Linked DNA regions of Homo sapiens. The protein of the gene in region 1 interacts with the protein of each later gene in a pairwise test. Each region holds a gene or a part of one and is shown in the gene's direction. Other genes may lie near its edges. The genes, in order: HEMGN, KAT6A and ZBTB1.

Region 1 (12,273 bases):
TTATGTAACATTCACTACAAAAGAGGCTAAAATCAAGCATGGTTATAGCTCAGAAAGGAGAGACCACATCTAGGCAATTAAAGGGAATAGAACAGAATGGTTAAATCCCTAAACTTTACAGTCGGACAGCCTTAGTTTTGAGCCCTAATTCTGCCACTCATGAGTTTATGTGATCTAGGGATATAACCTCTTTAAACCATGGTTTTGTTATCAGTGAAATGGGGATACTATTAGTTGGAAAAATGAAATGAGATACTGCATATAAAGTGTCAGCTACCCATTATGAGTTTGTAGAGTGACTAAAGTCTCATCATATCATTGTCATCGTTGTCATCATCATCATCATCAAAGGCTTTGTGATTAAGGCACTCACTATCTGGATCGGCAGACATATGACAGAAGACTGAACAACCAGAAGTTATGAAGATAGGTACTGTGGGTGTTAGAAAGATTCACGGCAAAACAGGGAAGGCAAGTGGTACTATTTAATGGAAACATTGGGTAGTTCCAGGAAAGTAATGGGAAAGAACATTGGGAAGTTAGACTTAAATGCCAGACTGGGAAATTTAGTCTTTATTCTGCAGGCAATACTGAGGCTTTACAGGATTCTAAACATGGAAGTGACTGGTTCAGAGCCAGCTGTAGCAGGAATATTCTGGATGTTTGTGCAGGATGGACTTGGGAGGGTGAGGGCAGATGAAAGCAGATAGCCACTTAGGGAGCTTTTCCAATGCTTCCAATGAGAAGTTGAGGCCCCTCTCTGGGATGGTGGTATAGGACAGGAAAAGATGGAATGAGCATGTGGGACACTGGGAAGAAAGAACTGGCAGAACTGTATCTAGCTGAATGTGAGAGACAAAGTGAAGAGGCAGAGTCAAAGAGACTTCTGAAGGCTAAGAACTAGATGGCCAGGCATGGTACTACTATTCTAACAGAAATAAAGCACAGGGAGCCTAGTTTTAGGGGGGAACATATATTTGCTTTTAGTTATGCTAAGTTTGAGGTGCAGTGGGACATCCAGCTAATAAGTGATAACCAAGAAACACTTGGAAATGTGATCTTAGAACTCAGACATATTTATTTAGAAGACATCTGCAAAGAGGTAGTAGCTAAAAGTATATAGTTGGATCAACTGTCTTTGGGTAAGAGTATTAACTCAAAAGGATCAGGGACTCTTGGAAAACACCTCCCATACCTAGGGGAGTGAAAGAGAAGCCTGTGAGCAAGGAGGAGGAGAAGGGAGAGAGAGGTGAGAACACCACACCATCAGAGAGGCTCCACACCATCAGAGAGGCCAAAAGTGGAGCAAATTTCATGGAGGATAGGAGTACTCAGAGGAATTATAAGCTGCAGAGAGGTCAAAAAAGAAGAACTGAGAATGGACCACTGGATTTGGCCATTAGGAAATCATTGATGATTTATGAGAGAATGAGTGAAAGAAAAAGCTAGATTACATATGCAAAGCAATGAAATGGTGTAGGGGGAAAAGGAGACACTGAGAATATATTACTAGTTCAAGAAGTTCAGAAATGAAAGGACAGGGATAAGGGGGAGGCTCAAGGTGGGACCAGAATTGCTCTTCCCCAGATAAATGACCACTCATCAGTGTTTATTCAGAGATGTTTGTCTATACTCTAACAGAAGGAGCATTTGTGGGAGGATTCCAGAGGAGGGACTTTGGGACAAACTAGATTGAAAGGCAGGCTACAGCCATTCTAAGTTATAGAACATGTTATCTATATGTGTACAGCAGCATCTGTTTTAGCAGACAGAAGTCATTTATCATGCATCAACAGACTGAGAGAGAGGGGAACAAGAAACTGTCCTTCTCCTTCTCCACTTAGGAAAGCAAAGCTTGATCCAGTCTTTGAAAAGTATTTAAAAGCTTTGAAAAAGTATGTCAGCAAGGAAGGAATGCTAAGAAAAACAAGTGTCCATTGTGTTCCCTTCCATGACTTTTCCACCCAAATGTATTTTAGGAAATTGCCCAGGTGCATCATTAGAACACTCTAATATCACTATCAACACTGTCCGGGTTGATGGGACTTATATCTGCCGTGTTTTTCATTTTATAAAAAGCTCCCATGATCTCTTTTATCCTCACAGAATCCCCATGAGGTATTACCTTTCTCTATTTTACAAGGGAAGAAACTGAGGATCAGAAAGAATTAAGTGATTTTCCCCAAGTTACCCAGCCAGGAAAATGATAGAGCCCTGTACCCCTCATTCTTTTCAGTGTATGCTTTCATATAATATGGTCTTCACAGTATGGCTCTCTGACTATGGCATGACAAACCAAAGTGTACCAGGGCTCTCATCTCTCTGGTTTTGGAGGCGCTATAATTTTTATCAATATAGCCTTAAATGGCGTTAGCTTTGGGGCACTTTTACCCCGTCTTGTTTTTGACTAAACAGTATCCAGTACATGGCCTGAGCTATTTTTTCCTGTGCTCCCTTTTCACCCCCATCTTAAAGGGCCCTAGGGCAGAAGTTTCAGCAATGTGTTTCCTCCCTCCTTCATTTGCCCAGTTCAGTCAGGCCTCTGAAATGTATGACCAAATTCTCAATACTTACACCTGCTCCAGATGGTCAGGAAGCAGGAAAGCAACTCTCTCCCTCAATACCTAGTTTGTTCTAGTAGGAAGAGGGCCAGGCTGGGCTTGGTAGCTCATGCCTGTAATCCTAGCACTTTGGCACGCAAAGGCAGGGGTATTGCTTGAGCCCAGGAATTCAAGACCAGCCTGGGCAATGTGTCAAAACCCTATCTCTACAAAAAAAATACAAAAAATTAGCCAGGCATGGTGGTGTATGCCTGTAGTCCCAGCTACTTGGGAGGCTGAGGTGGGAGGATCACCTGAGCCCAGGGAGGTAGAGGCTGCAGTGAACTGTGATTGTGCCACTGCACTCCAGCCTGGGCAACAGAGTGAGACCCCATCTCAAAAACAAAAAAAAAAAAAAAAAAAAGAAGGAATTAGAGGGAATTGGAGGCTGAAGGCCCAGCTTCTGGTGCGAACTACCAGTCTCACTCTGTGATCTTAGTTATATCACTCAATGCACTGAGCACCAGTTTCTTCATCAGAAAAATGAGGACAATAATAGCTATGTTATAAGTCTGCTTCAAGGATCCAATGAAACACTTGTGAAACACTTGCTAGGTTTAATTTTCTGCTATAGCCATCTTGAAATTCTTAGCAATTTTTGAAGGAGAAGCCCTCTGTCTTCATTTTGCCATGGGTCCCCCAAAAATTATATAGCTGGTTTCATCTGCATGCCCTTGGCCAAGTTACTTCACCTCCATAATCTATAATTAATTTAAATGAATTGAATTGTTAGGAAATCAATTGTTAGGACAATTCTCAATCCTTCCTCTACTTTAGCAAAGTTTGACACAGTGGATTAGTCTCTCCTCCTTGAAACAGTCTTTCCTCTTGGCTTCCGAGACACTATATTTTTCCAGTTTTCCTCTGCCTCACTGGCTGCTCCTTTGCTGTTTTCTCCCTAACCTGTTAGCACATCCAAAATGAAACTCTTGATCATCTCCTCCAAGCCTGCTTCTCCCAATCTTCCTGATCTGTGAATGCTAACTCCATCCTTCCAGTTGTTCACAACAAATCTTTATCTTGATTCTTTATGTCTCACCCCATATTCAAGTTATAAGTTAATCCAGAATCTGACCATGGCTTCACCACTGCCATCATCCAAACCTTAATTATCTCTCATCTGGATCATTGCAATACCATTCTGATTGTTCTTCTTGCTTCCTCTGCCCCTGTCCCACATAGTAGCCAGAATAATTCTTTAAACATGTAAGTCAGATCGTATCACTCCTCTGTCCAAAACCATGCCATGACTACCCATCTCACTCAGAGTAGAAATCCTACAAGGGGCAATAATAGGCTTCTTCTCTGATCCCACCTCCTTAACACTCCCCTCCTTGGGCCATTTGCTGGTGCCCCTATACCTGGAATGCCCTCCCAGATATCAGCATGGCATATCTGGCCTCTCACCTCCATCAGTTCTGTTCACCTGTCACCCTATCAGTCAAGCCTTCTCTGACCACACTATTTAAAATAGCAGCCACCATCAACCTCCTTTTTCTTATCCTATTATGCCCAGCTCAGTTTTCTCCAAAGCACTTATCACCATCTGACACATTATATATTTTATTTATTTCCTTATTGTTTATCTCTCCCCATTAAAATGTAGGTTTCATAAAGGCAGGGACTTTGCTGTTCAATTACTCTATCTCTAACACATAGGACTGCGCTGGGCACAGAATGAATGACAGTAGAAAGAGCTCTGACACAGATGATGATATTGCTATTATTAAGTCACAGCAGCATCAAGCCCTGAGTGTATAAATTACTGTCCCAGGCTGCATGTTCATGAAGCAGGGAGTGAGGGCGATTATGGGGACTACAGTGAGCCAAGCCTCCCACCGGATCATACTGTGGAGACAGAAAAGTGAATCAGGAGCTGTATCTGCTCTCTAAGGGTTTGTGGCCTAGAGAGAGGTTTATGTATATATGCAAATAACTCTAGAACAAGGCAGCATTTGTCAAAAAATATGTGGACTTTAATGCCTAACACACATTCTGGAAATTCTAGTTAGAGAATTCTAACTAAATTTCTAACTAGAATTTTCTACAGAGAGAAGGGACCATGAACTGTGGCTTGTAAACTTACTGTAGGCTACTTCTGTCTCAAATTCCCACTCTGGCCTGTTTATCATGCCAGAGACACCTTGCCTGACTTCCAATCTAGTTTGCTCCAAAGTGTCTCTCCACTGGCCTCCTCCACCCAATATTACCTTCAATTTACTGTTAACTTGAAACCCCACCCTCTTACAGTCCCTCCACACTCTGCTTCTAGATACAGGGAACATGGGGCAGGGGTGGAATTGACTTAGGTAGGTTGTAGCAGGATATAAAGAATCTATTATTTCCTTGCAATACAGATGTACACACTTTCTCCTCTATGAGCCTACAGGGCACAGGGCTCAGGAACTGCACCATCCGTCTCTACAGCACAAGAGGGGGCATTAAGTAAAATTTGCTGAATTGTTGAACTGGGTGTTACAAGCTCTTAGTAAGGACAATTTTATTCAAGAAGTACCTCTGCATCCACTGAAGGTGTCCCAGAGGGATTCTATAATGTTATTTTATTAAACTATCCTAATGTAAGAAACAACCTAACTAATAAGAATTAAAACATATCAACTAAAGGGACCAATATTTAAAAAAACACTATTTTGTAATTTTTAAAGTTAGTTTGAGTTATTTAAACCCCATATCTGAAAATCCAAAATTTTCAAGCAAATAATGCCTGCTGTTCCGTGCAGGATTCCTTTGAGCAGGGGCTCCCTGAAGTTACCTGAACTTTTAGATACAGAGATTTACTTAAGAGAAGGACTGGGGAACTGAGAGAGGTAAAGCTAAATATTAGGGTTTAGTAATTAAAAACCAAGTTAAATTTTAGTGGCAGATACTTGGGTGTTTGTTATATCATTCTCGATACCCTTTAGTGTGTTTGACAGCTTGTTTCTCTAATATATTTACATGATACACACATTTTTATACCCAGGAAAGATCAAGCACACAAAATGATGACCCATCTCCTAATCTGTAAGAGATGCTGCTGGCAATAAGTAATAAAATACTAAGTATAGGTAACTCTCCTCCTCGGTTCTCAGTTTCTTTGTATACAAAATAGGCAGGGACTAGATGATTTTGGGCTCTTCCAGTTCTAATGCCTTAAGACTCCATGGAAGTAGTGGGTATCTATTCACATTACAAAGGTCTTTCTTTATAAAGAATCCTCTTCAGATTCTCTCTTTAGTGCATTTAAACTATGACTTGCTTTACCAAAATCTGGTTACTGTATTTTTATTGGTAGCTAACATTTACTGACCAAGTTCAATATGCTAGGCACACATAAAATGCCTCATATGGATTACTGGACTTAATCATCCCAGTAACTTTCTGAGGTAGATACCAATATTGTCCCCATGTTATAGATAGGTAAATTGACTCCAAGGCTATCTAACCTGCCTCAGGTCACTGAATTAGGGAATGTCAACACTGGAATTCAAACTCACTTCAATTCAATCTGAATCCAGAACACATATATTAATCCTGCATCTCCCAGACTGGCTTCCTGTATCAGGAGGTGCTCAGGGTTTCTTCTTTAGTTGAACCATAGTAGTCTGTGGCTCCTTGTCTTCACAAATGGGGTTACTGCTTGGAGATAGGATGGTTCCTTTGATTATTTCAACTTAATTTCTGGGATATAATGTGGTGATATTTTCATTAAGAAGTAATTTTTCACCTTCCCCTATATGAGTAACAATGGATTTCACTAGTTATCTTGAGTCACTTGCGAATGATTTGGTGAGCCAAAAAGGGTACAAAATTGCTGTGAAATTCTAATTTGGTTCTTTATGTCTATTTCTTAACTAAGTCTAACAGCATACACAGCAAAACTGTACATTATTTTGCAACAGATTAAGGTGAAAAAAGCTACATACAGGAAACCATGTAAGATTAATATATATCACACTTTCTAGAAACTTTTATATCTATTATTTTCACTTTCACAAGAACCGTATGAAGTAGGCAAGACAGGAATTATTTACCCATTTTGCAAATGCAGAGAGTCATAGAAAAGGGAGGTGACTTGCCCTGGGCCACTGAGCTGGTTGGGGCCTAGATTGTGTTCTTTCTACACTAGGCTACCTCCATCTGTAAAAAGGAACATCGGATCCAGACACTTCCTGGCAGATAGAACCAAAAGAGTGCTGACTAGAGGCTGTGCCATGCCAGGCTGTGGTCAGAGAGTTTCCCTGTATAAATAGCAACCTATGCTAGGGGTTGCTAGCACCAGCCATTTCCCCTACTCACACCTGTGCAGTGTGATAAAGATAGTAGAATTAGCCTGCAGTTGTGGTCCAACCAGATAAAACTTTTAGGCGGGAAGTCAAGTGACAGGCAAACTTGTGTGTGTGGTTTTTTTTTTTAAGTGTTAGATGTTTTTGATATTTTAAAAAAGCATCTAGGCTGCTTGTGGAAGTCAGACCAAAATAGCAGGAAGGTATTGCAGCAAGATGGATTTGGGAAAGGACCAATCTCATTTGAAGCACCATCAGACACCTGACCCTCATCAAGAAGAGAACCATTCTCCAGGTAATGAAAAATACCTTAAGAGCTGGTGGCTGTTGAGAAGAATTCGGGGTATGATAATTTTCTCTTTTCAATGGATCTGGCCAAAAAAAAAAAAAAAGGAAATAAATGAAAGCTAATGAGACTAGTTCATCCAATAATTTCATTCGATGGCTGTGGTAAAACAAGTGGATTCATACATTTCTATGGCAGCACAAATTTGGTCTAACGTTTGGAAAGAGATCTGGCAATAAGTGGTGAGAGCTATAATACTGCTTATTCTTTTGACTCACTAATCTCAGTCCTTGGATCTATCCTAAAGCAACATTTCTCAAAATGTTTTGTGGAAACTTAGGCCTTGAGATACCTTAAGACATTGTTTTAAATTTTTTTTGCTACATGGATCTCTTTGGCATTCTGATGAACCCAGAGACTCCTTCTTTGAATAAAATTTTTAAAGGCATAAAATTAAATATATAAGACTAGAAAGGGAATAATTACATTAAGATACAAATATCAAAATAAAAAATTATTATATAGTAATATATATGATTATTTATAGATTACAATATCCAGTGGTGGGTCTAATAATAGTATCAAGTCAAATAAGTCATAGCCAGTAGGTGATATTTTAAGGTATCTGCAACAACTATAATGTGATAAAAAAATATGTGATTTCTTTATAGGGACCAAGTCATATGCTGAGGGGGAGGGAGAGCATCAGGAAGAATAGATAATAGATGCTGGGCTTAATACCTAGGTGATGGGATGATCTGCACAGCAAACCACCATGGCACATGTATACCTATGTAACAAACCTGCATATCCTGCACATGAACCCCTGAACTTAAAATAAAAGTTGAAAAAAAAGTCATATACTGCCAAAACTACTGTGGTTTGTTATCTACATTCATAATTGAAGGAACTGTCAATTTTAATTAGAGGTTGGTAAAAATAAAGATATAATTTTTCCTATTAAGAACCCTTATCCCAAGAACAAGAGGCACCATGGTTCAAGGGGCATGCTCTATTCTTTAGAGGTCCCAGTGTGGATTTGTATCACTTCACAGGCTCTAGGAAGCTCTGCATCAAAGACTCATCAATTTTTCTCAACCTTAGACAGCAGCAGAAACTTTTTTGATCAAACCCTTAATTTTCCAAAGAACTTGAAAAAACACCGTTCTAAGGAAAAAATACCAAAGAAAAGCTATATGCAATGAATATGCTTATTATAATTTGATATACAAGGCAAAGATAACTAGCAACAATCTAAATGCTCAATCCAAGAGGAATGATTGGGTAAATGAGAGTACATCAACTAGACTATGTATCACATTGTCATTAAAATTATCATTATGAAGACTACGTCATGGAAAATAGTTCTAATATAACGCTAGCTTAATAAAAAGATTAAAATTGTGGTATGCTATTCTTACAACTTTGTGTAATATAAAGACTGGATAGAAGTGAGGAATAAAATGAAAACAAGTTATCATGTTAAAGACAGCAAAATATGGCTACTTTTTTCATTATTTGTACAATATATAAAATTACTTTGAAGAAATTAATAGGTTGGTAGCACACTTATGTACAAATACTATGTAGGAGTAGGTCTCTGACCTTTTCATTCAAAAACATTTGCTGAATGTCTGCTTCCAGGCTTTCTCTGGAGATACAAGGATAAATGAGATGCAGTCCTTGTCCTCAAAAAGCTAGGAGAAAAACCTAGAACAGAGACTCTGCCACTTGGCTACAGGACTTTTGCTGATAGACACCACAGTTCATCACTTTTTCTAATCACTTTCATTTTATTACAGAAGTCATTGGAACCTGGAGTTTGAGAAACAGAGAACTACTTAGAAAAAGAAAAGCTGAAGTGCATGAAAAGGAAACATCACAATGGCTATTTGGGTATGGTAGCATCACAAGGGAAAGGGAACTAATATATTTATTGAGGATGTTATGCATAAAGTAGTGCTGTGCACTTTACACACTGTATTTTATCTTTCCAACAATCCTGTAAATCAGACATGGTTATCCCTATTTTACAGAAAAACAGAGACTAAGCCTCCAGTGAGTTACACCTCTTGCCTAAAGTCACACACACAGCTGGTAAAATGGTGGGAACAGAATTTTTTCCCTGGTCTCTTTTAATTAAAGCACTGAGCAACCGAATTATATTGTAGAGAAGCCTGGCGTTTAGCTCCTAGGTAATATAAACATAGAAGCATCCTGTTGGGAGTGGGAAACATCATTGAAGAAGCCTCCAAGATTGTTCGCCAAGCTTTCTATTAGCTAAATCTTTACTGAATGAGTGTGATTAACTCTCCATGGAATAAGCCAAAACATTCGCTGTAAATGAGTGACAAAGAGTTTAGATAACCTGTATGTTCACCTGTATGTAAATGCAGGAAGGGGGTACAATAACATGACTGTAAATTAGGCGACATCTAATTGCATCCATTTCAAATATGATTGTGGAAACTGGGGACTTGCTTGCTTGGAAGGGGAGCCCAAAGAGCCAAAAGTGCAGCATCCATCTAAGCCAAAGTGTCTCCACCTTGGCACTGCTGACACTGGGGGCAGGAGAACTTCCTGTTGTGTGGGGGGCTGGCTTGTGCACTGCAGATGTTTTGTAGCATTTTCTGGCCTCTAGATGCCAACAGCACCTTCCACCCCAGCTGTGACAACAAAATGTCTCCAAACATTGTCAAAAGTCTTCTGGGGTGGGGTTGGGGGAAGACAGGCAAAATCATCCCCAGTTGAGAACCACTAATTTAAGCAAAGCACTCTTCCTAAGAAAGGGCATTTTCCAATCCCCAAACCCCGCTGTGGACTGAGCACTGTCTGTTCTGCTACAACAGATGTTTCTATAACACCAAGTTCACATACGATTGATAAATAGGAGAATGATGTCAGTATAATGTGGGGGTTGTGTTGGTTCATGATTTTTTCCTAGTCAGAAGAAAGCAGAATAGTGGGAAGAGAATTAAAGCTTTCAGCTGGAAAGAAAAAGCCTTCAGCTTGGCTGTTGTATAAGCAGGATTCTTTTCAGCCAGCATCCAGGGTTCCCTCCTCAGAGAGGCACAACACCAGCCTTGCGCAGCTCTCCATCAAGTGGCAGCTTGCACTTCCCTCCTGTGCCCAACTTAACGGCAACCCCGCTGGCTCAGAGCTCAGGTCTCAGCAGCTTCAAGCCTGCAATTACACTATATTTGCATTTACTATCCCCTGAGGCAGCCTCCAGCCACAGTAAACTGCTTGTCTAGACCATCCAAGTTCTCTCTCCTGGTACCAATTATTGTTTTAGTTAGTGTTAAAATGTTGCAAGGGTTTTGAATCATTTGTCCCAAGCCTATTTGCCCCACCTCCATAACCACTGTAACTTTATAGAGGATGATTTTGCAGAAAGTGAGGTTTTTTTAGGAACACGTGTATCATTTTACAGTAGAAATATTTGTATTAGGGTCCTGTGGCAGGTCTATTGAAGATTATCCAATTAGCTCCCAAATTCCATACCACTAAGCAATCTTCCAATCATTACTTGGCTTCCCAAGTACTTATCTACAGAGACGGTGCATTTGTTTGGGAGCCCAGAACCCAGGTATTCTCCTCCCCTCCCCTCCCCCCTCCCCTCCCCTCCCCCTCCTCTCCCCCATCCCCTCCTCTCTCCTCCCCTCTCCTCTCCTTTTCTTTTTTCTCTTTCTCTCATTCATTCATTCATTCACTCGTTTTGAGACAGAGTCTCACTCTGCTGCCCAGGCTGGAGTGCAGTGGCACAATCTCGGCTCACTGCAACCTCTGCCTCCCAGGTTCAAGTGACTCTCCTGCCTCAGCTCCCAAGTAGCTGGGAATACAGGCACTGGCCACCACGCCCAGCTAGTTTTTGTATTTTTTAGTAGAGACGGGGTTTCGCCATGATGGCCAGGCTGGTCTGGAACTCCTGGCTTCAAGTGATTCGCCCACCTTGGCCTCCCAAAGTGCTGGGATTACAGGCGTGAGCCACTGTGCCCAGCCAGTCCAGGTATTTTCTACTATGTGACTTTGTATGTCTGTTCATTTAAAAATTGGTCTTTAGGTTTATATGTCAGTCTCCTTAAATCTGCTTGATGAGCTCTGCCCCTGATAAATGGAGGTAGTCTCAGTGTGCTAACAGAATCAGGTTTCTGGGCTTGCTGGGCTGAGGGTATTCACTCAAATGGATAACACCTTAGTGAGCCTCTTGGCAGCTGGCTGGACTTGCTCTGGTGATACATCTCTATAATGCTAAGGCCTGTGCCCTCTTTTCTCACTACAACACACCATACAGTGAAACTTTATTAGTTTCAGAGAGAGGCAGCAGAGTGCATGGTTATGAGCCTGGCTGTTAAAGCCAGAATGACTAGATTCGTAGCCTGGCTCCCCTACTTGGTAGCCAGAGCCCTTGGAAATATTATGGAAAATAAATAATTCTCATTATAAACGAATAGATTGGCACTCTGGTTTATATACTAGTCTCTTTGCATTTAGTCTGTGTGTATTACTTCACTACCCCTGAGTAAACTCATACTCAGGGTTTCTAGACCTGCAATCCAGGCACGGCTCCTTATCTGTGCAGCCTGCAGGTGGATAATGTATATGGCTTGATTATCAAATACAAGTGTTGGGCAAGTTACTCAACATCTCTGTGTTTCAGTTTTGTCATTTGCAAAATGAAAATAATAACTACCTACTTCATAGACTGATGTGAAGATTATATGAGATAACAAAATAACTAAATTATTTAAACGGTGCCTGACATATACAAGCACTATAAGTGTTTCCTGTATTCATATGAGTCCTAATTTATATTTGAATAATTCATTCATGTAAGTTATTATATATAATTCTTATAACCACCACATGAAATTGGGCCGATATTATTTACCTCATTTCACTTACAAGGAAACCAAGGCATGTAGAGGTTAAGTGACTTGCCCACAACCATGAGAGAGTACAGACTAAAGTTTAGGCCACATAGGTATTTTTTGCATTTTTTGAAAAACTACCTGGGAAGACATGGACTATTACATTACTCAGATCTCCTCATACAGAGATTTAAATAACAACTTCTTTAGGATTTAATATCTAGGAAAAA
Region 2 (8,529 bases), on another chromosome or scaffold:
TTCTTTAGGTTATTTGTTATCAAAGCGTGAAGGCCAAGCAGGGTCTCCAGAGAAACCGTTATCTGATCTGGGTCGTCTTTCCTACATGGCATATTGGAAAAGTGTAATATTGGAGTGCCTTTATCACCAAAATGACAAGCAGATCAGCATTAAGAAGTTAAGCAAGTTGACTGGAATCTGCCCTCAAGACATCACTTCCACACTCCACCACCTACGAATGCTGGACTTCCGTAGTGACCAGTGAGTATCACATCTTTTTGTATACCTTTGAAAGATAATTAGGTTGAAGTTTTTTGGATCAGCCAGTCAGATTATTGATGAAAGGGCATTAACTAATATAAATGATATACTTGGTGATAATGAGATATCATTTTCCTTTCTAGGATATTTTATTTGATTGACTATATATATGGTCTATATATAGTCTATATATATGCTTTTTAAACTGAATTGTTTTTCTGATACCCCTAATTTTTGGACCTAAGCTACTGAATCTTTCATCTTCTAGTATTGGGAGCTCTTTCACAATACAAGAAGTAACCACTCTAGAAACAGTCATTAAATAAAATGCCCATGTTAAATTTTCATATAAATGGCACAAAGTAAATATAGATTGAAAGGAAGAACAGACAGTTCACCCTTCACTAAAGTGGTCAGAAAAAGGTCACAAAGAAAGGAGGCATTTGAGCCAAATAAATGGAGAATAGGAAAGAGAGTGCAGAAGAGCAGCAGAACTTCTGGAGCGGGACGTGTGAGACAGCAGGCAGTGAAAACAGCCCGCGGCCACGGTAGAGAGCGAAGCATTTGTCCTGCTTCACACTCCTGGCCGTCTCATGTGGTGGCACATTTCTGCATTCCATCGTCCCAGGCAGGCTATCTTTGCAGCACCTATCATCTTACATGCTTCACCAGGGGTCTCATCTCCACATTCATTTTTATGTACACCTTGTACATTGTTGATTGCTATAAACTTTTCTCTGGTTCCAGATTTGTGATTATCCGCCGGGAAAAACTTATCCAGGATCACATGGCAAAGCTTCAGCTGAATTTGCGACCTGTAGATGTAGATCCAGAATGTTTGCGCTGGACTCCAGTCATAGTGTCCAACTCTGTGGTCTCAGAGGAGGAAGAAGAGGAGGCTGAGGAAGGAGAAAACGAAGAGCCACAGTGCCAGGAAAGAGAATTAGAGATCAGTGTAAGGGCATGAATAGTCTCTATTTTTGATGACAGAAGATATATTTTTGATTTCATGAGTATTTATAATAATGTATTATGATCATCTTTCACAGAAAAGTAAATTCACATTAGAATGTCAAGAGTTTTATTTCAGTGGTAGAGATTTCAAGAAGACTGGACCTGGTTTACTTAAGTATTTTTAAGCCTTGGACAATTAGGAGGAGACCATCAAATTTCTTATAATGTGTTACTTGTGAGAAAAATATTTGTTACCAGGGTGCCAAGAAGCAGCTCAGTTTTAAGCTGGATAGTAGTTGAGAAATCTGAATTGAATCCAAATCTGACAGTTTTTAAAAATGAAATGGAGGTTGGGTGTGGTGTTTCATGCCTGTAATCTCAGCGCTTTAGGAGGCCCAGGCGGGAGGATTGCTTGAGATTAGGAGTTCAGGACAACCAGGGAAATATAGTGAGACCCCATCTCTACAAAAAAAACCCAACAACAAAATGAAATGGAGATACATTTTCCTTAAATAGAATATTAAGTAACTATTGTAAACTTGTGTATGTTTTCTGATGGGGCACCAAAACATCCTGTGGACACACAGATCTCTTTAGCCGTTAAAGGGTTGCTGGTGAACTGTAGTGCATGTGTCATTGTCAGTATTTTTCTTCATGTGATGCATACTTTTATAGCTCTTTTTTTTAAGCAGTGCTTCATCCTTTCAACACCGGTATCCTCCTTTAATAAACATAAAAAATCCCATGCCTCTCTTTAGTGCAGTTTAATTTTTCAAAATGAAATTATTCAGAATAAAAGTAAATTTAAAAACTACATAAACTTTCTTTCATATTTCTCAAATGCCTCCTTCCTCTTGCCCATGTCTCAAGATCCTGTCTCCTCCACCCTGTTTACAAATTTTTATTTCTGAGAAATTTTATTAAACAATCTCATTTAACATTTAAAAGAACAATAGTATTCACTTTGCTTATTGAGGGTGGTACTGCAGAAAGATTCAGAACATAGGCTCTGGAGTCAGACTGCCAGGCTTTCTATCCCAGCATCTTCTCTTGCTCTTGCGTGACCTGGGGCAGATTACTTAAATTTTTTTCTACCCCACATGCCTCATTTGTAAAGTGGAGTTGTAGTGGTAATACTTCATATGATTGTTGGGGAGATTAAATAAATAATGCATATACAGAATTTAAAGCAGTGCTGAAACAGGAAATATCCATGTTAAATAACTGATCATTTTCTTTTTAAAGCTCAGTTTCCTTTTCTTCTCTCAATACTTAAAAGGTCAGAATAGGTAAATGTAAGCAAACAAGACTGAAAAATTAACCAGCATTGTTTTATTTTCTAAAATCAGGTGGGAAAGTCTGTGTCTCATGAGAACAAAGAACAAGATTCTTATTCAGTAGAAAGTGAAAAGAAACCAGAAGTTATGGCTCCAGTCAGTTCTACACGTTTGAGCAAACAAGTCCTTCCTCATGATAGTCTTCCTGCAAATAGCCAGCCATCTCGGAGGGGCCGCTGGGGGAGGAAGAACAGAAAAACCCAGGAACGTTTTGGTGATAAAGATTCTAAACTGCTCTTGGAAGAGACGTCTTCAGCTCCTCAGGAACAATATGGAGAATGTGGGGAGAAATCAGAAGCCACCCAGGAACAATACACTGAAAGTGAAGAACAGCTGGTGGCTTCTGAGGAGCAGCCAAGCCAGGACGGGAAACCTGACCTTCCCAAGAGAAGACTCAGTGAGGGGGTTGAGCCCTGGCGAGGACAGCTCAAGAAAAGCCCTGAGGCTCTGAAGTGCAGATTAACAGAAGGAAGTGAGAGGCTGCCCCGTCGCTACAGTGAGGGTGACAGGGCTGTCCTCAGGGGCTTCAGTGAGAGCAGCGAGGAGGAGGAGGAGCCGGAAAGCCCTCGGTCAAGCTCGCCACCAATTCTCACAAAGCCCACGCTGAAGCGAAAGGTAACGCATTTCTTTCCAGGTCTTCTCTTCCTCCAATTCCAGTTTATCTTACACCTTCTCGTTTTAGCTTACAGTTCTGAAAGAGTATAAGTTAGAAATTCCTAGTGCATTGCTTTATAAACCTTAAGCCTCTGTATATTGTAGCTCAAGATCTTCCCAGTGAACATTTGAGATGTGTGTGTGTGTTTGACTTCTTTGATTCATGGGAATTCACTTAGAAATCATAAGCTTATTTAAGGGCTTCACCTCCTGGGATGCAAACAAACTTTTTTTTAGCTTACTGGTTTGATGTTCAAATCATGACTTTTAGGGGCTTAAAGCCCTAAAATATCTTTAAAAGATATTTTTAAAGTATGTACAGATTAGAAGTGTTTATATTAGAAAAGGAGGCCAAAATATTACATAATTAATTGGAAAGTGAACATAGTGCTGCCCTATATTTTGGGGTACTCAGAGTACAGTAGCTCATCTTGGGTGCTATTGTTTTCTCTCTACTCTCCCCACTTCTCACACATCCCTCCAGTGGTTTAACGTGGTCTCTCTTGCTTTAAAAATATTTTCTAAACTATATTCCATCATAATGATAGCCAATTAGTTATTAAATAATGTACAATGATGATAATGAATTCTGTTAAGCCGTTTACCAGAAACATCCCAGGCTATGGAGTGGATTTTAAGCATTGCCAGGAGGCAGCCAGACTGAAGCGAGGCTGCTCCCTGGAAGAGCCACTCAGCCAGCTTCCAGCCAAAGCAGCACAATCGTTCCTTTCCTTACAGGGTCTTAAAAAGCAAGACAGGATCTTTTGTTTTGTTTTGTTTTGTTTTAAGAATAATATCTTCAGAGCAGTTTTACATTTACAGAATTAATGCAAAGAAAGTACAGAGAGTTCTCGCATACCCCAGCCAGTTTCCTCTATTATTAATCCCTTGCGTTGGTGTGGTACATCTATCACAGTTACTGAACCAGTGTAGATACATCAGTAACTAGAGTTCATACTTTATTCAGATTTCCATAGTTTTCCCTAACGTCCTTTTTCTGTTCCAGGATCCCACCCAGCATATCGCATTACATTTAGTAGTCATGTGTCTTTAGGTTCCTCTTGGCTGTGGTAGTTTCTCAGAATTTCCTTAGTTTCGATGGCCTTCATAGTTTTGAGAATGACTGGTCAGGTATTTTGTAGATGATCCCTCATGATATTAGAATGGGGTAATATATTCTTGAGAGGAAGACCATAGAGGTAAAGTGCCATTCTCATCACATAATTAAAGGGTACCTGTTGGCATATATCTATCAGTATGTATAGGGAAGCTGGGCATAGTGGTCACTCTTGTAATCCTAGCTACTTGGGAGGCTGAGGCGGGAGGATCACTTGAGCTGGAGGCTGTAGTGCACAATGATTGTACCTGTAAATAGCCACTGTAGTCCAACCTGCGTGACATAGCAAGACTCCGTCTGTAAAAATAAAAAGAAGCAAGTATCAAATATAAGGGTATTATCAATTTGATTTTTCCCTATTGAAGTTAACTTTGATGACCTGGCTTAAGATATTGTTTGTCAGGTTTCTACTTTTCTTTTCCCTTTACTGGAAGGAAGTCACTGTGCATAGCCACACTTAAGATTTCTACCCCCTCAGAGTGGAGGCTCAGCATAAATTATTTGAATTTCTGCTTGGGAGATTTGTCCTTTCTCCCTCATCTGTTTATTTATCCAAGCATTTATTTATATCATTATTGGCCCAGATATTTACGTGATACTTCACTTTATAATCCAATACTACTGCTTTTTAAAATTTGTTGCTCAGATTGTTCCAGTTTTGACCATTAGAAGCTCCTTCTTTTAGTTTCCCTCTTGGGCTGCTGCTGCTTTTTTTTTTTTTTTTTTTTTTTCCTTCCCCAGATGGGGTCTTACTCTGTCACCTAGGCTGGAGTGCAGCGGCATGATCTCAGCTCACTGCAACCTCCACCTCCTGGGATGCAAGCAACGCTCCCACCTCAGCCTCTTGAATAACTTGGACTACAGGCATGTTCCATCACGCCTGGCTAATTTTTTGTACTTTTGATAGAGACAGGGTTTCGCTATGTTGCTCAGGCTGGTCTTGAACTCCTGAGCTTGGGCGGTCCACCTGCCTTGGCCTCCAAGGTGCTGGGATTACAGGTGTGAGCCACCGCGCCTGGCCTCCTGTGTTTAACATATATACTGTTGTTGTCATTGTGGGGTCTTTTTGTTTGTTTTTAAGCATTTCCTTTCTGGCACTACAAGATGCTTCAAGTTCATCTTGTATATTTCATGCCCTTGTCCTAGAATCAGCCTTTTCTCCAAGGACCAGGGCCATTTTTAATCTAATTTGAAAATTACATTCTCGATTGGGACTATTAAGTTTGAAGTAGAGAAAAATTGAACATTGACTAACTGCTGTTCATTGCATGATCATGAAGAATAGATCTTTGTCATCCTAGCACTTGTATTGCCAATTTATGAAGTAAAACAAATCATGTTAAAAAAAGAAAAAGAACAGGCAGTAAGCTCACATGCAAAGTAATTTTGAAGTTAATGAATAAATGCTTTGACTGGATGTGTGAACTTAAGCAAGTCCTATACCCTCTCTGACATCTATAGAATGAAGGGATTGGATTAGATAATCTCTGGGGCATCATCTCTTATTTTGTGATATTAGTTGTATAATTTTAGCTATTTGGTCAGTCCAGTGCAAAGTTGTGCTCAGTGTGCCCAAATTTCAGTAACAGATTTATTTTACTTTTGAAATATTTCACTAACACTGAGTAAATACATTTCAGCCCCATATTTCTACATTCCACAGCTTTTTATGAGTAGTTCATGAAAATGGCATACAACTTTACTGATAGTTCTGCAAACCTTCACAGTAGTGCTATAAGACAAAGTGTTTTTATTTCTCTTTTGCTCTTAAGTTGGAAAAGTTAAGGGATTAGCCTCTGGGTCAGTTCAGTATTAAAACAGGGCAACTCTCTAGGGTGCTAAATTTAACTGAACTATTAAGAGAATTATAATGTCTGCTATTTGGAGATGGCTGCCTATTCTTTTACAAAGTTGTGTTCAATTGCCTAATACCTTTGTATTTATAATAAGTGTATTATCTTACTATAGTATTTTGAAATAATATTCAAAATATTTTTTGGCAAACAACATCCTCATTTTATATGTGCTAATTCTATTTGGTTTTAAAACTGTTTTCGTATTATTAATAGAAAAGATAGTGTTCATAACTGTAAATACTTGCTTTCTCTATTAAACAGAAACCATTTCTCCACCGAAGGAGGAGAGTCCGAAAGCGCAAACACCACAATAGCAGTGTAGTCACAGAAACTATTTCTGAGACCACTGAAGTGTTAGATGAACCTTTTGAAGATTCTGACTCCGAGAGGCCAATGCCAAGATTAGAACCCACGTTTGAGATCGATGAAGAAGAGGAGGAAGAGGATGAAAATGAACTTTTCCCTAGAGAATACTTCCGTCGTTTGTCTTCGCAGGATGTACTCAGGTGTCAGTCCTCTTCTAAGAGGAAGTCTAAAGATGAAGAAGAAGATGAAGAGTCAGATGATGCTGATGGTATGTTTTACAGAACTCACTTACTGTGGTTTATTGTCTTCAGATATATAGCAGTAGCAGTGACAGACCCTTCAGTAAAAAGGCTGAAAAATGAACACAACCCACTAAGCAAGAAAAGGAACGTTTGGCAATCTCTAAAAAGTTGTATCAAGTATATCCATCTTGATTTTTAAATGTGTTTTCCCTTCAACTCAGAACCTCTATTAATTTGCCTCTGCAGAAAATATCTTACTATTAGGCAACTGTTCTTTTTTGCCCAATCCTTTCTAAGCCTTTATCAGAATCTTTAGTTAATGGGAGAGTTGGACTTAGCATCAGGAAGATGTAATAACCCTTCACTAGAATGTGCATTCTCTAGACTTAGTCTGTTTTGCTCATTGCTGTATGCTGAGTGCTTAAGCCCGGCGCTCAGTAAGTAGTGTTAAATGAGTGAATGCTAAGAAGACAATTCTCCAGAAAGAGCAGATTCATGTAAATTGGAACTTGTGTCACATCTGTTCAGGAGTCTTTCCTGAATTGTATCTCTAATGTGTCTTACCCAACTAGTAGTAAATTTCTCACAAATGGTAACAATAACTCAAAATAAATTTTATAGTATAGATACAAATCCAACTATTTACTTTTAAAGCAGCCTAGTTGTCATTTCTTCTCTAGAGACACTGAAACTAGGTCTCATATATATGAGCCAGGTCAGAAACAAGTCTTTTTCACCCTAGCCTAAAGTTTTGCCAGTGTCTCATGCTGCCTGCATCTGCAGTGTGTTTATCTCGCATGGGCTCAGAATGAGCATTTTTACTTTGTTGGGCAAATTTGAAGAAATCTACTTGTCCAGTCTTGGTACATAAACCTTTAGCTTTTATGCATTAACTGGTTGAACTTTTTAATTCTTTTAAAAATTCAGTCAGTTTCAAGTCTAGAAGATAAACTTACATTTTCTCCATTCTCATATTTTCTATATAACAAATACTTTTTTATTTTTTATTTTTTATTTTTTTGAGATGGAGTCTCCCTCTGTCACCCAGGTGGGAGTGCAGTGGCACAGTCTCAGCTCACTGCAACCTCCACCTCCGGGTTCAAGCGATTCTCGTGCCTCAGCATCCCAAGTAGTTGGGATTATAGGTGCACGCCACCATGCCTGGCTAATTTTTGTATTTTTAGTAGAGACGGGGTTTCACCATGTTGGCCAGGCTGGTCTCAAACTCCTGACCTCAAGTGATCCACCCGCCTTGGACTCCCAAAGTGCTGGGATTACAGGTGTGAGCCACCCTGCCTGGCCAACAAATACTTTTAATATAGTGATAAGATGAATGTGTTCTTTGCTCTATCATGAATGATTCTACAGAGTTTAACTTGCTATGTTTTGAAATAACATAACTAGGAAACTAAAAATTTATTTTGTAAATTTAGCACTTTATATTCTGTCTTAGATCATTGTACACTAAAATAGTACCCCTGATTAAGTTCCCATGGACTTAGATTTTTGCTGATGCAGCCATTTCCTTTGTTGACTTTCAAGTTACTACTACTAACTGTGCCTTTTTAGCCGTGCCCCCACTGCATCATGTTCTTGTCTTGGTATTCTTATTCTTTAAAAATTAATAGGCAATGTGAGTGTACTTAATGCCACTGAACTTAACACTTATAAATGGTTAAAATTTTAAGTTTTATGTTACGTATAGTTTACCATAGTTTTTTTAAAATGCTAATAATATAAAATTTATTTCTAATGAATGTAATTGGTGCTTTAATTTTTTCTTGTTTGTCTAAGTCTAAATGTCAGTTTTTGTCTAGGACTAA
Region 3 (8,661 bases), on another chromosome or scaffold:
TAGAATTATTGCTTCTTTGATAATTCAAGAAAAGACAAAGGCACTGATCAAACTTGTTTGGTGCCATTTCTATATAATCTAATAAGGTTGTTGTTGTTGTTGTTGTTGTTGTTGTTTTGAAACGGAGTCTCGCTCTGTCGCCCAGGCTGGAGTGCAGTGGTGCGATCTCGGCTCACTGCAAGCTCCGCCTCCCAGGTTCATGCCAGTCTCCCGCCTCAGCCTCCTGAGTAGCTGGGAATACAGGCGCCCACCACCACGCCTGGCTAATTTTTTTTGTATTTTTAGTAGAGACAAGGTTTCACTGTGTTAGCCAGGATGGTTTCGATCTCCTGACCTCGTGATCCGCCCGCCTCGGCCTCCCAAAGTGCTGGGATTACAGGTGTGAGCCACCACACCCAGCCCTAATAAGGTTTTTTTAAATTTTTATTTTTGGGATAGAGTCTCACTCTGTCACACAAGCTAGAGTACAGTGGCGTGATCATGGCTCACCACAACCTCAAAATCCTGGGCTCAAGCCATCCTCCTGCATCAGTCTCCCGAGTAGTTGGGACTGCAGGTGCATCATCATGCCTGGCTAATGTTTTTTTGTTTTGTTTTGTTTTGTTTTTAAGGCGAGATCTTGCTATGTTGCCCAGGCTTAATAGGGTTTTTAAAATAGATTATTTTAACAACACATGGCCAATCTTGTATCATCTATTGCTCCCCACACCCACCCCATTTATTTTTAAGCATATCTCAGATGTATCATTTCATCTGTAAATACTAAAGTATATATATCCAAAAGATAAGGATTCTTTTTAACACAATCAAAATACCTTTCTCACACTTAAAAAATGAGCAATAGCTCCTTAGTATTAATCATTTAATAAGTTTTTCATACTTTACAATCTAATTGTTAACTTTCAGTTTAAGTTGCTGTTTTATTTACTTTCATTACTCATATCCTTCAAGAGTTGTTTTCTTTTTTTTTTTTTCTTTTGAGACAGAGTCTTGCTCTGTCATCCAGACTGGAGTGCAGTGGCGTGACGCAACTCACTACAGCCTCTACCTGTCGGGCTCAAGTGATCCACCCACTTTAGCCTCCCAAGTAACTGGGACTACAGGTGATGCCACCACACCTGGTTAATTTTTTAAACTTTTTTGTAGAGAAGAGGTCTCACACTATTGCCCAGGCTGGTCTCAAACTCCCGAGCTCAAGCAATCCTCCTGCCTCGGTCTCCCAAAGTGTTAGGATTACAGGCGTGAGCCACTGCACTCGGCCTCCTTCAAGTATTTTTAAATTAATGTCTTTTTTTCTGTTCAAATTTAGTGTACATGTTCCCCCCAAGAGTTGTAATGAAACTAAAACTGTCTTTTGCTTTTGATGCCTTTGTTCAATATGAAAAGCCTGAATAAATGGCTGGATGTCTTCATCTTCAAATTTAAAAAATGATTCAAGTATATATTATTGAGTTTTATTAGAATGGAAAGCTCTTAATTTCTTGATTGTAATAGCAGTCATGCAAGTCACAAATCATGATAAAAGTTAATTTTGTCAAGTGCTTTTCTATATCTTGTTTGACTTTAATATTTTTGTTTTACATAGGTCTCTAATTAACAGAAGATGGCAAAGCCCAGCCACAGCAGCTATGTCCTTCAGCAGCTAAACAACCAAAGAGAATGGGGTTTTCTCTGTGACTGCTGTATTGCAATTGATGACATTTACTTTCAAGCACACAAGGCAGTTCTAGCTGCCTGTAGCTCCTATTTTAGAATGTTTTTCATGAACCATCAGCATAGTACTGCACAACTGAATCTCAGCAACATGAAAATTAGTGCAGAATGTTTTGATCTCATTTTGCAGTTTATGTATTTAGGAAAAATTATGACAGCTCCCTCCAGTTTTGAGCAGTTTAAAGTGGCAATGAACTACCTACAGCTATACAATGTTCCTGACTGTTTAGAAGACATCCAGGATGCAGATTGTTCTAGTTCAAAATGTTCCTCTTCTGCTTCCAGCAAACAGAACAGCAAAATGATATTTGGGGTAAGAATGTATGAAGATACTGTGGCTCGAAATGGCAATGAAGCCAACAGGTGGTGTGCAGAGCCAAGTTCAACGGTAAATACACCACATAATAGAGAGGCTGATGAAGAGTCTTTACAATTAGGTAATTTTCCTGAGCCACTATTTGATGTATGTAAAAAAAGTTCCGTGTCCAAATTATCTACTCCAAAAGAACGTGTGTCAAGACGCTTTGGGCGGAGTTTTACCTGTGATAGCTGTGGATTTGGCTTTAGCTGTGAAAAATTATTAGATGAGCATGTGCTAACCTGTACTAACAGACATTTATACCAAAACACAAGATCTTACCATAGAATAGTAGATATTAGAGATGGAAAAGACAGTAACATCAAAGCTGAATTTGGTGAAAAAGATTCTTCCAAAACATTTTCTGCACAGACGGACAAATACAGAGGAGACACAAGCCAGGCTGCTGATGATTCAGCTTCAACCACTGGAAGCAGAAAAAGTAGCACAGTGGAGTCTGAAATAGCAAGCGAAGAGAAAAGCAGAGCTGCTGAGAGGAAAAGGATTATTATTAAGATGGAGCCAGAAGATATTCCTACAGATGAACTGAAAGACTTTAACATTATTAAAGTTACTGATAAAGACTGTAATGAATCCACTGACAATGATGAATTAGAAGATGAACCTGAAGAGCCATTTTATAGATACTATGTTGAAGAAGATGTCAGCATAAAAAAAAGTGGTAGGAAAACTCTAAAACCTCGAATGTCAGTAAGTGCTGATGAAAGAGGTGGTTTAGAGAATATGAGGCCCCCTAACAACAGCAGTCCAGTACAAGAGGATGCTGAAAATGCATCTTGTGAGCTGTGTGGACTTACAATAACCGAGGAGGACCTGTCATCTCATTACTTAGCCAAACACATTGAAAATATCTGTGCATGTGGTAAATGTGGACAAATACTTGTAAAGGGTAGGCAGCTTCAGGAACATGCTCAACGATGTGGCGAGCCCCAAGATCTGACCATGAATGGGTTAGGAAATACTGAGGAGAAAATGGACTTGGAAGAGAATCCTGATGAGCAGTCCGAAATAAGAGATATGTTTGTTGAAATGCTGGATGATTTTAGGGACAATCATTACCAGATAAACAGTATCCAAAAAAAGCAGTTATTTAAACATTCTGCCTGCCCTTTTCGATGTCCTAATTGTGGCCAGCGTTTTGAAACTGAAAATCTAGTGGTTGAACATATGTCTAGCTGCTTAGATCAAGATATGTTTAAGAGTGCCATCATGGAAGAAAATGAAAGAGATCACAGACGAAAGCATTTTTGTAATCTGTGTGGAAAAGGATTTTATCAGCGGTGTCACTTAAGAGAACACTATACTGTTCATACTAAGGAAAAACAGTTTGTTTGTCAAACATGTGGAAAGCAGTTTTTAAGAGAGCGTCAGTTGCGACTGCACAATGATATGCACAAAGGCATGGCCAGGTATGTCTGTTCCATTTGTGATCAAGGAAACTTCAGAAAACATGACCATGTACGGCATATGATTTCTCATTTATCTGCTGGTGAGACTATATGCCAGGTCTGCTTTCAGATATTCCCAAATAATGAACAGTTGGAGCAGCACATGGATGTTCATCTGTATACATGTGGAATATGTGGAGCAAAATTTAATTTGAGGAAAGATATGAGATCACATTATAATGCCAAGCATTTGAAAAGAACCTGAGTGATTTTCTACTGTACTAATGTTTAGATGATAGCAGATAAAACACCAAAGCAAAGGATATGAGCTATTTAGGAATTGATTATATAAGATGATTTGTTAGAAACAAATTTCAAGGCCCTTTTAACTTTAATATTTTTGTTTAGGATTTTAAGTATCTACATTTAGGTATTAAATGTTTATCATTTTTGTTGTTTCTTAATAGAATTATTTGTTTTTAGTTTTTCTTAGCTATGATTAAAATTTTTAAATGTAGACTACAAGTGGTTGTTACCCATTCAATGACTATTAAACTTTAGTTTTTCATCAATAAGGTGATGACTTCACTATTTCTATGTGTTTTTTTTTTTTTAAGGTTATCCTGTGAAATTTTAAACCCAGAATCATTGGCCATTTCTGTTTAAATTTTAAAAATTCCTTAAGTAATTATTTGAAACTATCCCGTTTGCTTTTAGTGAGTTAACTACTCTTTATTCCCCCTTATTAATGAAATTCATATTCTTAAATTGACAAGCTTATTAGGCAAGTTAGGTGCACTGAATCTAACCTTTAAGGTTGACATGGGCTCAAACTTGGCCTAAAAAGATTGATGAACCTGAGGAAATTTTTATAAATGAATATTTCCTATAATTGATAAAATATTATCATTTAATTATCACATTTAAAACTTATATTAAGTGTAAATTCCAGTGGCTTTACCTCACTTGAAAAATTAGTGGGGATAAGCCATTTTGTTTTGTGATATTAAATTTAACTATGATAGTTAATTAAAAAGACATATCTTGTATTCATTAAAAATATTTTAATTTAAAATATTCTGATTTCTAAAGTGTGTTAGCTTATCAATTATTTTTGTTTATAAATAGACTTTAATAGCTCTCTAAGAATATGACCTCTAAAGGAAAAGATGATTTTTTACAATACATACTTCTGGAACTTTGAGATTTGAGAAAGCTTCCATGTATATTGATAAATCTAATAAAATAAAGAGATCAATTATAAACCTGGTTGTTCTATAAAAGTAGAGTGCACAAAAAAATGTCTTGTGTTTTATACTGTCTAAGATTTGGAGGAAATGTGGCAAATTGCAGTTTATCGCCATATTTTATTATCATTTTTTTCTGTAAAAGACTATAAAACTTGAGGATTATAAAATAATCACAGAGTATATCAATGGAAACAGTTTATCATTTTTTCAGTTAAAGTAGTAGTATTGTTAGTTGTTGCTGACACAGGGTCTACATAATTACATGTGAATTAAAACATTGGCAAAACTGACCCACCAATAAACACATCTATTGAATAGAATGCCTTTTAATGTGAATTACTTGCAATGTAGTACCCTTTTCATAATGAAAGGGATTTTAATTAACTCCTAATTTTAAAAATATAAATTTGTGATTCTGAACACTAATAGCATTGCTCTTTTTGTTCACATCATATTTAAAATATGCAAATCATATTTTGTATACAATTTACATAAAAGAACAAGTTGCCAAAAGAACTGAGAGACATACTGGTGAGTACAGATTTAGTTGAAAGCATTAGAGCACCATGTGAGCTCAGATTTGTGGGGATATGTTGAAGTGTTAAGTAAGGATAGGAACAGCACAGGAACCAAGTGCAGAATTCAAATAACGGGAAGTAGGCAGGGGACGGGTAGAATACACACAAAAATTAAAAATTTAACAGCAAAAGCAGGAAAAGTGATTCATCTTACCCTTACTTAGATACAATAGTTTATCAAGTAATTAAATTTGAAATCCAACTTAAAATGAAATGTGGTATGTATATTACTGATAGGAACCAGATAAAAGTTCTCTAACCCAGAGACCATCAGAGAGTGGTATAAAGAGATCAGATAAACCAAGTTTCCAAACTACAGTATATAGTATCATAATGGACATAATTTATTTGAGATCACTTTTTTCGTGACTCATCAAAATTTTTCTTGCAGTGGCTTTCCCCATTGTTAAAGAATAGGGCTTTTTCTAAATACTACCACTTTTTGAAGAAACGATTATCTATTCCATTAGGAAGGGGGCTTAATTTAGTCTTTTGATATGTACTAACAGCTAACAATTAGCAAGCAAATATATAAACTTTACTCTCTAATTTTACATGACTGAGATGTTTATAGTTTTAGAAAGCCATACCTCAACTTATTTTTTATTTTATTTATTTATTTTTCTTTTTTGAGACGGAGTCTTACTCTTGCCCAGGCTGGAGTGCAGTGGTACAATCTTGGCTCACTGCAACCTCCACCTCCCAGAATCAAGCAGTTGTCTGCCTCAGCCTCCTCAGTAGCTGGGATTACAGGCGCATGCCACCACGCCCGGCTAATTTTTGTATTTTTAGTGGAGACAGGGTTTCACCGTCTTGGCCAGGCTGGTGTTGAACTCCTGACCTCGTGATCCACCGGCTTCAGCCTCCCAAAGTGCTGGGATTACAGGCATGAGCCACCGTGCCCGGCCACCTCAATTTTTTTTTCTGAGTTTCATGTTACACAGAACATACCTTTTTGTTTTGGAGCTAGCTACAGGGAAGCACAGGCTTCTCTAGAGTGGAATGTACAATTCTTATCAAGGCAAAAAGTTAAAGACTACTTGCTTTTTAAAATTAGGGAGAATGAAAAATATCCAGCACTTTTCCCCAGCCCAGTTCCCTAATATCTCCTTCCTCTCCTGGGGCAGAGCTGCAGAGCTGTCATTCCTTGCTGTTGCTTCTTGCCCTCCCTGGGTGTGAAGGTAATGAAACAAGTGTGTTGAAGCTGCCAGATCTTCTGCCTTTGTAACTTAGGTGTTCAGGTTCCAAATCTAAAAATGAAAGGAGAATCTACACAGATATATAGTGGAATCAAATTCTCTTTCTGTCTCATGAACACCATGAGACTCTTTTGCTTTGGCCCTTTTATTCTACACAGCAAGAAAACCCAGAGGAATGGTTAGCAAGCTTGCCATCAACTATAGTACAATACAACTTGCATGTTCTACGATTCCTTAGTAAACAGGACTAAGAATCTCAGAAATTAATAGAGCACAACCAAGGCAGCAGTAGATTAGGACTCAGAAATGCGTCTTCATCTCCCCCATGTTTTTAAGGTAAAAATATTCAGAGGCCAGGTGTGGTGGTTTGCATCTGTAGTTCCGGCTACTCGGGAGGCTGAGGCAAGAGGATTGCTTGAGTCCAGGAGTTCCAGACCAGCCTGGGCAACATAACAAGACCCTATCTCTAAAAAAAAAATTTGTTTAATTAGCAGGGCATGGTGGCATGCAGCTGTAGTCCCCAGCTACTCAGGAGGCTGAGGTGGGAGGATCAATAGAGCCTAGGAGTTCAAGGGAGCAGTGAGCTATGATCATGCCATTACACTCCAGCCTGGGTGACAGAGTGAGACTCCATCTCTGAAAAAAATTAGAAATGACGCACATGGGTTAAATGGTATATGGCAAACTAACAGTTTGAGTATGGACAAAAATTCAATTAGAAGAAAGGATCCCAGAGGGGCTAATAATTTAAAAAAAAAAAAAGTTTGCTAGAGCAGTCAGGACACTAATTAAAAGGAAAAGTAGAGGCTGGGCACCAGCACCTTGGGAGGCCAAGGTGGGTGGATCACCTGAGGTCAAGAGTTCGAGACCAGCCTGGCCAACATGGCAAAACCCCACCTCTACTAAAAATACAAAAGTTAGGCCAGGCGCAGTGGCTCAAGCCTGTAATCCCAGCACTTTGGGAGGCTGAGGTGGGTGGATTGCGAGGTCAGGAGTTCAAGACCAGCCTGGCCAACATGGTGAAACCCCATCTCTACTAAAAATACAAAAAAATTAGCCAGGCATGTTGGCACAAGCCTGTAATCCCAGCTACTTAGGAGGCTGAGGCAGGAGAATTGCTTGAACCCAGGAGATGGAGGTTGCAGTGAGCCAAGATCACACCACTGCGCTCCAGCCTGAGTGACAGAGCGAGACTCCATCTCAAAAAAAAAAAATTAGCCAGGCGTGGTGGCGCGCACCTGTAATCCCAGCTACTTGGGAGGCCAAGGCAGGAGAATCTCTTGAACTTGGAAGGTGGAGGTTGCAGTGAACTGAGATCATGCCACAGCACTCCAGCCTGGGCAACAGAGCAAGACTCCATCTCAAAAAAAGATAATAATACACACGAAAAATCATGTTTTACTGTAGCTGAAAAATATATGAACAGGATATAAAAATTGAATAAAAAACATTTGAAAATTATAGGTGAGATGAGTAGGGATTAAAAATAATATGACTATAATTATAGAATGCCTATGGAACAATTTTATGAACATGCCAAGGATATGCCTAAATAATTGAGATTTTTGTAAGTAATGATGAGAGAGGAAAAAGTAATTGAGATATTATCTTTTATATTCTAAAAAAAAGTAGGAAGAGAAGCTGGTGGTGGTTGACAACTTTTTCCCTGGTTAAACAATACTCATTTCTCTAAGTCAGTAGTTAAGGAACTTTGTATTTAATAAATTTCTGGAAAATCTTCCCCAAAACCAGTTTAGCCATTGTAATATTTAAATTAAACATAAAACTTGTGTCGTTGTTAACAAAAAGCCAAATCACTACCAAAAGAAAAAAATCTGAGTGTATGTGCACACATGGTTAAGAATAAAGAAATCTGGTATACCTAATTTTAACTGGGTTTTTATCATGAATTAAAAGTTAAAACATTTTTCTTTTCTTTTTTTTTTTTTTTTTTTTGCCATTCATCTATTTTGATCAGTTAGTTCCTCAACTTTCCTTACTACTCCCATCTCCTTTGTAACATATACTTCTCAGTAATAAATGGCCAGTGCTCTCCAGACATCCTAGCATCAACAACTTCTGGGATTGCAGGGTACCAAAAAGCTCTGGGGGAACATACCCTTGTAGAATCCCTCCCACATCCTTGATAACCTG

The links.
Region 2: the proteins of HEMGN (region 1) and KAT6A interact in a two-hybrid assay, tested with the Homo sapiens proteins (one study listed by BioGRID).
Region 3: the proteins of HEMGN (region 1) and ZBTB1 interact in a two-hybrid assay, tested with the Homo sapiens proteins (one study listed by BioGRID).

Annotation. Positions count from the first base shown.
Region 1 is NC_000009.12:97,932,966-97,945,238, reverse strand, and holds the start of HEMGN (hemogen), read left to right. Parts: upstream 1-7,066; 5' UTR 7,067-7,102; coding exon 7,103-7,181; intron 7,182-8,974; coding exon 8,975-9,068; intron 9,069-12,273. UniProt on the Homo sapiens protein: Regulates the proliferation and differentiation of hematopoietic cells. Overexpression block the TPA-induced megakaryocytic differentiation in the K562 cell model. May also prevent cell apoptosis through the activation of the nuclear factor-kappa B (NF-kB).
Region 2 is NC_000008.11:41,935,459-41,943,987, reverse strand, and holds part of KAT6A (histone acetyltransferase KAT6A), read left to right. Parts: intron 1-8; coding exon 9-240; intron 241-987; coding exon 988-1,195; coding exon of another isoform or gene 1,196-1,207; exon of another isoform or gene 1,208-1,939; intron 1,940-2,543; coding exon 2,544-3,146; intron 3,147-6,419; coding exon 6,420-6,732; intron 6,733-8,529. UniProt on the Homo sapiens protein: Histone acetyltransferase that acetylates lysine residues in histone H3 and histone H4 (in vitro). Component of the MOZ/MORF complex which has a histone H3 acetyltransferase activity. May act as a transcriptional coactivator for RUNX1 and RUNX2.
Region 3 is NC_000014.9:64,519,902-64,528,562, forward strand, and holds the end of ZBTB1 (zinc finger and BTB domain-containing protein 1), read left to right. Parts: intron 1-1,585; 5' UTR 1,586-1,603; coding exon 1,604-3,745; 3' UTR 3,746-5,050; downstream 5,051-8,661.